Regions from separate parts of the Homo sapiens genome. Here all the other regions are linked to region 1. The links come from fine-mapping of genetic effects on gene expression. A gene starts in region 1. Each other region holds a variant in brackets. All regions are shown on one strand. Distances are from middle to middle. Region 1 holds the start of ITPRID2 (ITPR interacting domain containing 2). Region 2 has its middle 29 kb from the start of ITPRID2. Region 3 overlaps ITGA4 (integrin subunit alpha 4).

Evidence for each region.
Region 2: its variant is fine-mapped to the expression of ITPRID2 in whole blood (TOPMed, PIP 0.97).
Region 3: its variant is fine-mapped to the expression of ITPRID2 in tibial artery (GTEx, PIP 0.95).

What each region holds. Positions count from the first base shown.
Region 1 is chr2:181,890,129-181,892,896 of GRCh38, forward strand. It overlaps ITPRID2 (ITPR interacting domain containing 2), which reads left to right and starts at 1,602. Exons shown (of 18, transcript NM_001130445.3): 1 at 1,602-2,149; 2 at 2,487-2,532. The coding sequence starts at 1,939. RefSeq lists silencers at 1,479-1,808, 2,099-2,238.
Region 2 is chr2:181,861,658-181,864,425 of GRCh38, forward strand. No RefSeq gene overlaps it. Among named protein-coding and RNA genes, the nearest start is that of ITPRID2, 29 kb to the right of the region's middle. The variant G/A (reference allele first, on the strand shown) is at 1,587.
Region 3 is chr2:181,535,549-181,538,316 of GRCh38, forward strand. It overlaps ITGA4 (integrin subunit alpha 4), which reads left to right. Exons shown (of 28, transcript NM_000885.6): 28 at 1-2,768. CERKL (CERK like autophagy regulator) reads right to left here. Exons shown (of 13, transcript NM_201548.5): 13 at 1,124-2,696. The coding sequence ends at 2,636. Among named protein-coding and RNA genes, the nearest start is that of ITGA4, 80 kb to the left of the region's middle. The variant C/T (reference allele first, on the strand shown) is at 1,113.

The DNA of each region.
Region 1 (2,768 bases):
AGAGTAGGCAACAGCACTTAGATATGATAGAATTGAAGCTGGGAGCAGCAGAGGAACAGGGTGGATACGTAAGAACCCTGGATAAAACTTTGAAGGCAGCATATTTTGTGGCACTTGACCAGCCCTTTCAATGCTTCTTCTTAGGTACCTTCTTTATTCATTCTCTTTTTCATCTTCCACACAGGCAGCGAGACTCTGACCTATTTTGGAGAGCCATTAAACTGTTAGCTGCATCCTACTACAGGACCCTTGAAGGCTGAGAAAGTCTTATAGGTTCAAAGAAAAGATTTTCTAGTAGTGAAATTTCAAGCCATAGAGATATTAATATCACTGTTCTAACTCCCCTGACATTTGGCAGTACATAGATGAGACTCAGGAGAATATTATGATGGTTCTGGAAAGCTAGTCTGGATTTTGGATTTGATCTTGGGGATATTAGTAAACCATTAGAAGATGTCTTGGAATTGTAAATCTAGAGCAATGCGCTAGAAAGGAGATAGGAAAGAATGAAGGCAGGAAAATCAGTGTGCTATTTTAGTAGTCTATGACTTATGTGTAAATGCCTGGACAAAAACTAGGCACTATTTCATCTCCAGAGCATTCTTCATTCCAAATTCTCCAAAAGTTATGGTTTCCTGTAGCTATCAATGACAATGCACTTAATTACCTTGTAATTCGAATGCTTCCATTAGGAATTTTACTATGCTCTGGATTTTAATTTCAAATGAAAAATAATTCCTTCCTTAAAATATTTTGTCTACGCAAAATATTCTTTTCAATCACGTTAAGATTTTAAAAAGTGTTCTAACTTGTTCTTCAGAGCATAGCCAAGTACAATAAAATATTGGAAGCCTTACTTATATGTATAGTTCAGATGTAACATTTAGGGGAACAATGCTGCTTGATAGGTCTGTCACATTGTGTCTGGTTTTGGATAGAATTTGAGTATTTTTGCTAATGAGAATTTAAACATAACAAAACGGAATGCCAAAGCTGGCTTTAAAAAGTTTTGAACCCTGACATCATTTGTTTCTTGTATCATGCTGTCTCACCAAAATCCAAGCAACTATCTCCACATTGTCCCAATTGTTTCCTCTATTCTCCCTCACCAAAGTCCAACTTCAATGTGAAATTTCCAGATTAAATATCCTTTCACAATTCATTTTCATTCATAACATAAACACGATAAATAACTTTAAGTATGAAAGTAGCACTCCAGGAAGCTTAGTCTTTTGCAGTTTTTACATTTTGGCAACACCAATCAAGCACCTCTTTCCGTCCTTACCCCAATTCCTTGGACACTAAAGAGTCTATATTCAGGCGACTCTTTCAAGTGTATGTTTCAGGGTGCCCAAGCAGACACTTGTTTTCTCGCGGGGGATGTTTTGTGAGACTTGGCCTCCCCACTTACGTTCTATTTTTAGGTGAGGGAGGAGGAGGAGGAGAGGAGGAAAGATTATTAACAAACTAATCTTGCCCATTCCGCGGGCAGTAGTCGGGGGCTGGCCTGCTCCGCGTCGCGCCGGGCGCGCCCCGCCCTACCGCGCCCCGCGCGGCCCCGGCCGGAAGGGGGCGTGGGCCGCCGCCGAGGGAAGGCGCGCAGACGCGCAGCGGCCGGCCTGCTCCGGGCGCGTCAGGCAGGGGGTGGGGAGCAGGGGCCGGGCGGGCGCTCGGCTCCCAGCCGCGCTCCCTCGGGCCACTAGCGCTCCCGCGCGCGCCCGGCCGCCTTCATGTGAAGCGCCGGCCCTCCGCCCCTTCCCTCCCCTTCCTTCCCTCCCTCCCTCCCTGTCCCCTCCTCCTCCTCCTCCTCCTCCGGCGCCCGCTTCAGCTCCCCGGGGCCCCCTGCCCGGCCGGGCGCTGACAGCAAGGGCGGGGGTCCCTGCCGCCGCCTTGTCTCGCGCAGGGTCCGGCTGGGGTAGCGGAGCCCCCAGTGCGGCCATGGACCGGCCCCTGTCGTCGTCGGCGGAGGCGGAGGAGGAACTGGAGTGGCAAGTGGCGAGTCGCAGGAGGAAGGCCTGGGCCAAGTGCCGCAGCTCCTGGCAAGCGTCGGAGACGGAGGATCTGTCCACAGAAGCGACGACGCAGGACGAGGAGGAGGACGAGGAGGAGGACCTCCCCGGCGCGCAGCTGCCGGCAGCGGGGGGAAGAGGTCGGTGCTCCCGGCCGGGCTCCGGGGGGAGGCTGGTGGGCTGGGGAGAGTCTCGTGCGCCCTGGGCGCCTGCCACGAGTTCTGGGAGAGCCTCGGGCACGGTAGGCCGAGGGGAGAGGGGACACTTCCGACCTTCAAACGCGCGCGCTGAACGAGGCGCCCCCAGCGTCAACACAGACAACTGGGTGCCATCCGATTTCCCTGCCAAGGGACACTGAGACGTGTCGCTTAGGCTGCATTTGCCGTGGTAGATTTTCCTACTTGGGAGGGTCCAGGGTGACTCCGCCGTCGTAGTGCTCCTGGGTGGTAACGTGCTGTCCCCTCTCTCTACCCCCAGGAAACGTGCCCAACGAGAAGATCGCGATATGGCTCAAGGACTGCCGGTGAGTGCTCCCTGGTCCGCCCGCGTCCCGGGGGAGATCCGTGCGGACGGGACGCCGGAGCAGAGCCACTCGGGCCGCGTCCCTGTGGGTCCCGCGACCGTTGTAAGCTACAAACCGGAAAGTGAGCCGGCGGATAGCTTCCTCCTCTAAGCGATTAGAAATGGAAGTGCTGTGACCGCTGATTATTTGGTGACCGTGTTGACTTTACAGTTAGGACTTGAGCTACTCACGCATCG
Region 2 (2,768 bases), 28 kb before region 1:
CAGAACCTCCTACCTGGCTAGTTAGACTCCTGTGCATTTTGTCTTAGTCTGGGCAACCTCACAACCACCTAAGAAATGAACTGCAGAAAACCTTAGCAGTTCTTAAAAAAAAATTGGGGAAAATAAATTAGCTCTTATTCTAAATTACATTATCTGTTAGTATATTATAGTACTTATATGGTCTTTTCTCTGTTCATATAGGCCTAAAAGATGAATCTTTAAGGATGTAATGAGTATCTGGTGACCATTTTTGTTTGTCTGCAGGTACCTGGCAGTTGCAAAAAGGCTGGAGTGTGTTTGTGTGTGTGTGATTTGGGTTACTTTGGATTGTTTTGCTAAGGTGTTGTTAATGTTAGTTAGGGCCGAAATGAAATTGTCTTGCAAAAAACACAATGATGTCTTAACTGTAAATACTGATCAAACCAAATAAACTCACATCATATGCTATTCCTACCATAAGCAGCAAGTATCTTTACACGGGATGACAGACTGACCACCAGGATTTAAAACAGTTAATAATATCGTCCCATATTTTAATATCTCTAGGGGATCGTTTTACTCATCAAGGGCAGAGTCAGAGGAGGAGAGGGAAAGAAACAGAGAGAAAATGTTAACTGGCCTTACCTAACAAGAGCTGAGCTAGTGTTATCTATATTGTTTCACTGCAAAATTATATGTCTTCAAAAAATGTCCCTGTTCTTAAATGTGAATTTTATTATCATAAAAACCTTTTCAAAGTCCTAATAGGAAAGGTTATCAAAGTGTTTTCTCATTTCTAACCTGAGAAACTAAACAACAGCTAGATAAAATCTGGGAAGTTCTTCAACTGAACCAATTTGCTTAACAGCTGATATTAAATATTTGATTAAAATTTTACTTCTCAAAACTCAGTTTGGAATTGTAGTGAATGTTAATTTCAGAATGTCTCAGAGTAAAGGTACTTTTATATTGTCACTAGATTGGTCTATAGATTGGGTACCCACTAGATTGGGTATGTCTGTTTTCTGAGCTAAAACTGTTGGCATCTGGGAGTTTTGTGAATTCATTTGAAGGTGGAATGGCATATAAAATGAACAATGGAGTGGGAATGTGGGAATAAGAATTCCACTGGCTTCTGGTTCTATTAGCTTTGTCAATAACTAGTTTAGTGAGCTTGAGCAGGTCATTTAACCCCTATTGGCCTTAAAATTTTTCTTTGCAAATGAGGGGCTGAGCTTTGATATCTAAGGTCAATTAAAGCTATGGAATCATGTGACTCTTCCACAAGTTTCTTTCAAAATACACATTGCTTATTTATTTATATCTGAGCCTATCTTAAAGGTTTTACTGGACTTTATCCAATCATAGCTTCAGCAAACAATACGGCCACAGAAAGCCTACTTGCGTCACTTGGTTTTATTTTTTCACGCTCAAACAATACCTGGCAAACAAAAAAAAGGTTTCTGAATTGTGATTGGCACAATGATACATGGTCAGCTGCACTGAGAATTTAGGCAAACTATATACATAGTCAGGGTGCAGAATGAAGGTGAGGGCTGATTTGTAGTTACTTGCATTTGTGAACCAAACAAATGTTGTAAATTGTG[G/A]GTGTGAGACGAATGCCAAAACCCAACAATTTTACTACTCTCCTACTCATTTGGCTTTTCCACTAGAATGCACACACACGCAGCAACATTTTCTGGTTTTCTCTCCTAGATCTTCCATTGAATGTACCACCATAGTCCATGCTTATTGTTTGCACTTCCTTGTTTCCGTGACATTACACAACCTTCTGCCTCTGCTCTCCTTTCCATATCTTAAATTTAGTCATACTACAAGACATATTCCTAAATCTTTTGGTCTTCTGTATTGGATCTCGCTCCCTTAGCGTTTTCTGAACTGCAATTGTCACTAATATGTGGATAGCTCCACAATTTACATCTTTGATCACTTTTATATAGTTTAAAACTAACTTATTATTAACTAATTTATTCAATAGACAGGAGATATATTATGAAAGGATTATTTTAGGTACAATGAAGTATTTGAGAAATTTTTTTTTAATATGTCCTTTCAAGAAAGAAGTGGTATATGATGTGTATCAATTCTTGCTGAATGCTTAGAAGGCATCCACAATTTTGAATAGGACTAAATTAGATATCCTATTTTTATTTTTACTTTTTTGAAACAGGGTCTCACTCTGCCACCCAGGCTGGAGTATGGTGGCACAATCATGGCTCCATGCAGCCTCAACCTCCCATGCTCAAGTGATCCTCCCACCTCAGCCTCCCAAGTACCTGGGAATACAGGCGTGTGCCACCACACCTGGCTCTCTCTCTCTCTCTCTATATATATATATATATTTTTTTTTTTGTAGAGACAGGGTCCCACTATGTGGTCCAGGCTAGTCTCAAACTCCTCTGCTCAAGCAGTCCTCCCATCTCAGCCTCCCAAAGTGCTAAGATTACAAGTATGAGCCACTGTGCCTGGCTCCCACTATTTTTAGAAAGTCAGTAACTCATGATCTTTTATGATTTAGAAGTTATTTAGAGGAAAGAGAATTCAAGAATAAGACTTTTGGGGTTTTAGAATATATTAATTTCTATGTCAAAGAAATCTTGCTCTTGTTTATAAAACATAAGATGCTGAAATACTGCCATTATTTGAAACATGACTGTAGTCAAATTATTCCTCCTCTTATTCTCCAGTACCCTACTTTCCACACCTGTGGCCCAAGTCAGCATTCCTCATCTTTGTTTATGATAATCATCATTGCTGTGGTCACCCAG
Region 3 (2,768 bases), 350 kb before region 1:
AATGGAAAACAGACTCAGGTTGTAGTAAAGAAATTTAAAAGACACTGTTTACAAGAAAAAATGAATTTTGTTTGGACTTCTTTTACTCATGATCTTGTGACATATTATGTCTTCATGCAAGGGGAAAATCTCAGCAATGATTACTCTTTGAGATAGAAGAACTGCAAAGGTAATAATACAGCCAAAGATAATCTCTCAGCTTTTAAATGGGTAGAGAAACACTAAAGCATTCAATTTATTCAAGAAAAGTAAGCCCTTGAAGATATCTTGAAATGAAAGTATAACTGAGTTAAATTATACTGGAGAAGTCTTAGACTTGAAATACTACTTACCATATGTGCTTGCCTCAGTAAAATGAACCCCACTGGGTGGGCAGAGGTTCATTTCAAATACATCTTTGATACTTGTTCAAAATATGTTCTTTAAAAATATAATTTTTTAGAGAGCTGTTCCCAAATTTTCTAACGAGTGGACCATTATCACTTTAAAGCCCTTTATTTATAATACATTTCCTACGGGCTGTGTTCCAACAACCATTTTTTTTCAGCAGACTATGAATATTATAGTATTATAGGCCAAACTGGCAAACTTCAGACTGAACATGTACACTGGTTTGAGCTTAGTGAAATTACTTCTGGATAATTATTTTTTTATAATTATGGATTTCACCATCTTTCTTTCTGTATATATACATGTGTTTTTATGTAGGTATATATTTACCATTCTTCCTATCTATTCTTCCTATAACACACCTTTATCAAGCATACCCAGGAGTAATCTTCAAATCTTTTGTTATATTCTGAAACAAAAGATTGTGAGTGTTGCACTTTACCTGATACACGCTGATTTAGAAAATACAGAAACCATACCTCACTAATAACTTTAAAATCAAAGCTGTGCAAAGACTAGGGGGCCTATACTTCATATGTATTATGTACTATGTAAAATATTGACTATCACACAACTATTTCCTTGGATGTAATTCTTTGTTACCCTTTACAAGTATAAGTGTTACCTTACATGGAAACGAAGAAACAAAATTCATAAATTTAAATTCATAAATTTAGCTGAAAGATACTGATTCAATTTGTATACAGTGAATATAAATGAGA[C/T]GACAGCAAAATTTTCATGAAATGTAAAATATTTTTATAGTTTGTTCATACTATATGAGGTTCTATTTTAAATGACTTTCTGGATTTTAAAAAATTTCTTTAAATACAATCATTTTTGTAATATTTATTTTATGCTTATGATCTAGATAATTGCAGAATATCATTTTATCTGACTCTGCCTTCATAAGAGAGCTGTGGCCGAATTTTGAACATCTGTTATAGGGAGTGATCAAATTAGAAGGCAATGTGGAAAAACAATTCTGGGAAAGATTTCTTTATATGAAGTCCCTGCCACTAGCCAGCCATCCTAATTGATGAAAGTTATCTGTTCACAGGCCTGCAGTGATGGTGAGGAATGTTCTGAGATTTGCGAAGGCATTTGAGTAGTGAAATGTAAGCACAAAACCTCCTGAACCCAGAGTGTGTATACACAGGAATAAACTTTATGACATTTATGTATTTTTAAAAAACTTTGTATCGTTATAAAAAGGCTAGTCATTCTTTCAGGAGAACATCTAGGATCATAGATGAAAAATCAAGCCCCGATTTAGAACTGTCTTCTCCAGGATGGTCTCTAAGGAAATTTACATTTGGTTCTTTCCTACTCAGAACTACTCAGAAACAACTATATATTTCAGGTTATCTGAGCACAGTGAAAGCAGAGTACTATGGTTGTCCAACACAGGCCTCTCAGATACAAGGGGAACACAATTACATATTGGGCTAGATTTTGCCCAGTTCAAAATAGTATTTGTTATCAACTTACTTTGTTACTTGTATCATGAATTTTAAAACCCTACCACTTTAAGAAGACAGGGATGGGTTATTCTTTTTTGGCAGGTAGGCTATATAACTATGTGATTTTGAAATTTAACTGCTCTGGATTAGGGAGCAGTGAATCAAGGCAGACTTATGAAATCTGTATTATATTTGTAACAGAATATAGGAAATTTAACATAATTGATGAGCTCAAATCCTGAAAAATGAAAGAATCCAAATTATTTCAGAATTATCTAGGTTAAATATTGATGTATTATGATGGTTGCAAAGTTTTTTTGTGTGTCCAATAAACACATTGTAAAAAAAAGAATTTGAATTGATATCTAAAAACAGAATTTGAATTGATATTTCATCTTGACTTTTAAAGCCCTAGAGGCTAATTGTTAGTAACATCAATTTCTATTAGGATATCCGTTTGGCCACACAGCAGGAGGTTAGAGCAATGGAGCATTACTGAGTTCCTCCCCCTGTCAGATCAGCAGCAGCATTAGATTCTCATAGAAGTGCGAACCATATGGTGAACTGGTATGTGAGGGATCTAGAGTGCCATGTTCCTCAAGAGAATCTAATGCCTGATGATCTGAGGTGGAACAGTTCATCCTGAAACCATTCCCCCATCCACGGAAAAATTGTCTTCCATGAAACTGGTCCCAAAAAGGGTGGGGACCACAGGTTTAAAGCATGGCCACATTTCTTTATATTAAAATTCTAGTTTGTACATTTCTTTTAGAAACAATTACATGTTACTTTGGAATCATTTCTTCCATGCTTCCTCCATAAAGACTGATAAGTCTTGGATGCAATCTGTAAAGAAAATACATTATTTCATCAACTTATTTTGTTGTTTTTCACATACACCTAATAAGTATGGTACAC